Regions from separate parts of the Homo sapiens genome. Here region 2 is linked to region 1. The links come from fine-mapping of genetic effects on gene expression. Tissue or cell type: tibial nerve. Region 1 holds a variant in brackets; the other region holds the start of a gene. All regions are shown on one strand. Distances are between the middles of the regions.

What was found. PIP is the estimated chance that this variant, and not a neighbour inherited with it, causes the effect.
Region 2: DLEU1 starts here. The variant in region 1 is fine-mapped to the expression of DLEU1 in tibial nerve (GTEx, PIP 0.96).

What each region holds. Positions count from the first base shown.
Region 1 is chr13:50,713,502-50,716,181 of GRCh38, reverse strand. It overlaps a transcript of DLEU7 not described here. Among named protein-coding and RNA genes, the nearest start is that of DLEU7-AS1, 93 kb to the left of the region's middle. The variant G/A (reference allele first, on the strand shown) is at 1,170.
Region 2 is chr13:50,080,734-50,083,413 of GRCh38, reverse strand. DLEU1 (deleted in lymphocytic leukemia 1) reads right to left here and starts at 1,245. Exons shown (of 7, transcript NR_109974.1): 1 at 857-1,245; 2 at 220-272. The region is part of intron 1 of DLEU2 (deleted in lymphocytic leukemia 2); the gene reads left to right. RefSeq lists an enhancer at 321-1,116 and silencers at 1,274-1,323, 1,724-1,943, 1,807-2,101.

The DNA.
Region 1 (2,680 bases):
AAAAAGACCAAGCAGGAAGCAATTCTATTCTTTCTTAGAACTGCCCAGTGAACTTGTTTCCTTATTTGGTGATAAAATCCTAGGTTGATCTAACATTTATGCCACCTTTCAGTTACTAACAAATACTTTGTGTTTTGAGATCTTGAAGGTCCAGTTCAGTCTAACATCAAAGCTTCCTGTGTCCCCAGCCCAGACCTGCCTCAGCAGGGTGTGGAGGGGAAGCAGTGCATGGCCAGGTGGCAGGGAGCTGCAGGGTAGCAGCAAGGTGTGCCAGGGCATGACAGCCAAACTTACCTTTCTGCTACTCTTCTTTGGCTCTTCTGCTGCCTTTGGGTCCTCCCACATCAGAACAGCAGTAGGGAGGAAAGGCAAGGTTGTGATTTGGTAGCATTATCTGGCATAGACGTTGTCTGAAGGCCGATGATTTTCTCAAGTGGAATCTTCGGAGTTTTTCCGAAACACCTCCACTAGGGAGCTGCCATTGTAGCTTCCTAACACACGTCTCCTCCAGCTATGACTTCCCCTCCTCCATCTCCGACTTCTTCCTGCTGGGGTTCCTTGTGTCTCCTGTTGGTTCCTCCTTTTGAGTGGAGCCCCATTCTCGGCTGATAGCCCAGTTCCGTTCCCTGAGTCCTCCAGGGCAACATCCCCTTTGCTGCGCCATCGGCGGAAGTGCGACTTCTCCAGCTCTCGCCCCCTTTCTCCTTTAGCTGCCACCGGCTGCTCTGTCTAGCTTCTCACCTGCTGGCTTTTCAGGTACTAATCTCTATGTGGTAGGCTGAATAAGGCCCCCACCAAAGATGTCCTTTTCCTAATCCCCAGAACCTGTGAATAGCTTACATTACACGGCAACAGGGACTTTGCAGATGTGGTTAAGGTAACAGATTTTTAGATGAGGGGATTATCCTGGATTATCGGGTAGGCTCAAAATAATTACATGATCCTTTAAAAGCAGAGAACATTTCCCGACGAAAGTCAGAGAGATGAGGCCTCGTGAGAAGGATTCCACACACTCACACTCTCGCTGGCTCTGAGATGTAGGTGCCCTTGTGCAAGAATCAGAGAGAGGCTGCAAGGAGCCAGTGGCAGTTCCCGCCGACAGCCCGCAGGGAAGCAGGGACCTCAGTCCATCAGGCAAATTGAACTGAATTCCGCCAACAAGGCGCAGA[G/A]GCCTGGAAACAGATGCTTCATTAGAGCCTCTAGGAGGGAGTACAGCCTGGCCAACACCTTGATTTCAGCCCTGTGAGGCTTGAAGCCCACACACCAGCCGCGCCCACTGGACTTCTAACCTACAGAACTGTGAGGTAGTAATTTTGCTATTTTTAAGCTGTTAAATGTGTGCTAATTTGTTTCAGCAGCAATAGACACTAATACATTCTATGTTCCCCAAAGCCTAGGGGTCCTAGGTCAGCTCTCCAAGTAATTCTCTGAAGGCCCCCTCTTATTTGCGTAAGATGAGGGGAAAACACATGAGAAGGGAGGAGGAAGCATTTTAGCAGCCTGAAAGCTCTGTCTCATGAAATCCTTGCCGTCCTCATTAATTTACAAGTCTCCCCTTGCGTAGCTAAGATTTGAGCGATGGTTTCAGGGTTATTGGACCATTTTTTTGGTCACTCCTTAGCAGATGACATCTCCTGAGAATAGATGAGCATTTTTAACAATATTTTTTTTTCTCAGCTCAAAGATGTCAGCTAGCACTGAGAAAACAGGAAAAGTCTCATTTTAATATCCTGTTACTTAAAGGTATTCACAGAATGGCTTACCGTTTTAGGTTTAACATTCTAATGATATGCCAGATGGACTGGGGTTGCTCGGAAAAAGCTGGGTGACAGGAGAAGGAGTTGAGATCCCAGAAAGAGAATTCACCACTAGGGTGGGAAGACAGACAGGTCAGAAAATAGCCACGTTGCCCAAGACCGGAATTAATGTGGATGAAACAACGCTTCTAGCCCTAGACCTCAGGCATGGCGGGATCCAAGGCAGAGGTGAGAAGGGAGTTTGTGTTCAGTGGCTCACCAGTAAGCAGGACTCTTATGCCTTCCTACAATGATCCTGCAAGAATGGAATAAACTGAGACTACATAGCTTGAGTATGTGCAATAGTTGACCACTTCCTTTCTGTGTTTTGTGGTTTCACAACTTGAGTTTCCAACAGAGCATGGGAGTGAGGGGAGTCAGAGACAGAGCAGCAGTTCTGTAACACAGCCGACAGTCTTCATGAGGGTAGGGGCAAGGCCCTACTGCCCGGTCCGGGAGGCCACATGCGGGCAGAGTCTGGGTCGTTTTCACATCTGCGGAATGATGTGTGTCTGAGGAGGGAGGCAGGTGGGAGACAACTTCCTTACAGTCCCCATCCCGTGTTGCTGCCTTTAATGAGCTTTTAGGAGGCATGATTTCATAGCCTAGTTTATTTTATAATCAAGCCCAGCTTCCTCTGTTAGACCAATCAGTACCTATTAACTGAATGCCTACCGTATGCAGGCTTATGACGCCAGGAACAAATACGTCCATGATGCTGTTGCTGTTTAGGAATTGTAAGATCATGGATAGAACCCCTTTCCTGTCAAGAGCTCACTTTTTCCATAGAGTGAAGGGCAGCTGTAAGGTTATTTCTAGAATTCTATTTTCCTTCCCTTCTCATTTCAGGAAGAAGAAGATGAACATAAAATACAAAGAAAAAG
Region 2 (2,680 bases), 630 kb after region 1:
AGCTACTCGGGAGGCTGAGGCAGGAGAATTGCTTGAACCCGGGAGGCGGAGGCTGCAGTGAGCCGAGATCGCGCCACTGCACTCCAGCCTGGCGACAGAGCGAGGCTCCGTCTCAAAAAAAAAAAAAAATTACAACTTTATTATCGTTAATTGTCCTATCAGAGTGCCCATTTTTTTTGAAGGTAGACAGGTTTGCCTAGATATGGTGCTTCTACTTACCAGTTCTAAGACTTTGGGGCAGATTTCTTAATCTGAACCTCAGGTGTCCTCATCTGTAAAGTGAAGATAATACCTACTTCATAAGGCTGTTGTGAGCAATAAACACGATTAATTCGTAAATCATTTATTTAGCACAGTGCCCAGCACACAGTACACAGTCAATACGTGGTAGCTGTCAGTATACCAACGTGTTGCACAACAGAAACTCGTCTTTGCTGGATTCAGTTCACTTATCACGCCATTAAAAAAAAAAATCATCCTAAGTGACACAGAAAAACTGCCCATTCCTATCTCAAAAAGTTTATGAACAAGTTAAGACGGTAAGAGAAACTGAATTCAATGAAAGCGCCTTCGCAACAGGCAGCTTAGGACCGGGAAGAAGGGCTTCAGCAAACTTAATCATTAACTCTAGGCAGGCGCGCGCGCACACACACACACACCGTTGAAGAAGGAGACCACGCCTCCTGTGTGGGCTCAGGTTGAATCGTACAGCGTGGTAGAGAACTCCAGGGCTGCTGAATCTGACAGATGTGGATTCATCCACTTCTGTGCCACCTGTGCTGTCTTGGGCAAATTACTTAACGTCTCTGAGCCTAGGTTTCCTGGTCTTCAAAACGAGAACAGTAATAGTTCCTACCTGGTAAAGTTGTTCCGAGGCTTAAGTGCGATAACCCCTGTAAAGCGCTGGAGAACGGCAAAAGCTCTACAAGCCGGCAGGGCGGTTTTAAATGCACGTGTATCCATATACAAGGTCTCATTGATACATTCCGTTGTTTGGAGTTTAGACACTGGCTGTAAGACGTTTTTCTTTTCTCCTAAGCAGGACCCGTATTTGTTTACCTCCAACGTAGACTAAATGCCTGTGGGCTGGTAGCTATAAGACGACCCCTCGGCCCCACAACCTCTAAGTTCACTTCACCTCCGCGGCTTTGCAAAAGCGCTACACGCACGCGCAAGAAGCAAGAGGACTGCAACCGAAGAAGCAAAGGGAGAGCCGTGCACCACGATGATTCTGCGCATGTGCCTGGCGGGAGGAGGGGGGAGGGTTGGAGTTTGCGCATGCGTAAAAATGTCGGGAAAGCAAGAGAAGGGGGGTTAAGAGGCGGTATTGACAGCTGTGGAGGCAGCCCGCGTTCCCGGCATTCCCTGGGGCGGCGGGGTTGGCTCTAACGAATTTGAATGAGGAGCCTCAGCGCTTTCGGCGCCATTTTCGAGTGATGCCTGATCTCATCAATCTAGCGGGAGAGACAGGATAACCTGTCCGAGAGTATAGCGCCACTATGACTCCGCCGGAAAAATTACTTTAAAAATCGCCAAAAATTACTTGGAGCAAAGGGCAGTCGGCGGAGCTTCGCCAAGGCTGGCGCAGTCGGTAAGAGCCTGAAGAAGTAGCAGAGCGGGACTCGGGAGGTGGCAGTGGTGGGACCCGCAGGCAGTGGTGGGTGCAGGGAGTGGGCGCGGGGTCTACTCTCACTTAATCGCGAAAAATCCGAGGAAGTAGGGTTAGGGGCAACTTGGGCGTCTGCGAGTGGGCGGCGGCGGGCGGAATGTGGCGGGAGCGCGGAGAGACGGGGCTGTGGGGGGAGGGGAGCTGCAGTTTGAGCGGGACGCGGACCGGCTGCGGCGGAGCAGCCGCCGCCCAGCGGATCTGTCAGCAAGACCCCCCGCCCGGGACCGGAGCCGGGGACGGCGCACTGCGGGGTCTCTGCAGGCGGCCGCTCCTTGACAGGAGGACTGGACGCGCGCCCCTCCCCCATTTCCGAACCGGGCCGCCTTTTCTCGCCGTTTTCTCGACCCGGTGATGGCCGTCATCTCGTGACAAGAAACTTAAGGTCGACAGAAAATTCAGGACCCGGAGTCATGGGTCCCTCCGGTGGGTCGTGGCAACAGTCCCCCCCGCCACCGCCCGGCACCCATCTATCTATATTGTCTTTTGACGCTGAAGCGTGAGGTGCCCCAGGAAAGAGTTTCCCAAGCCCTGGCTGCCCTCCCCCGGCGCGCTGGGTCCCGGTGAGGTCTCTAGGTAGGTAGGACTGGCCGCGGCTCGCGCTTCCAAGATGGGGCAGGGGCAGGCTTTTGAGGTTGTAGCGGGCTCTTAGGAAAGATGCTGGACTTTAGCTTCTTTCTGGGGATTTTTGTCATTTGCTCTCGCAGCGTTGTCCTTTCTCAAAGGGGAGGAGTGTTCACGGGTGAGATGAAAGATGGGGCTTCGAGCTAACGATTTCCTTCTCGTGGCTATTTCCTCCGAGTCGCACTTTCTTAGAAGACTTTTTTCTTCTCCGGTGTTTGAAACATGTCGCAAGGAAAAAAGCAATCTGTGAAACTATTAATGTTTTCCTCCCCCAAAAGTCTTTACCCGGACAACTTAACGGTAATTTTGCGATCCCCACCTTTTCTTGACGCTGAGGAGGAGGGACGAGAGTTGTTATTTGTCTTTCCCTTCGGTGATTTTTTTTTTCCC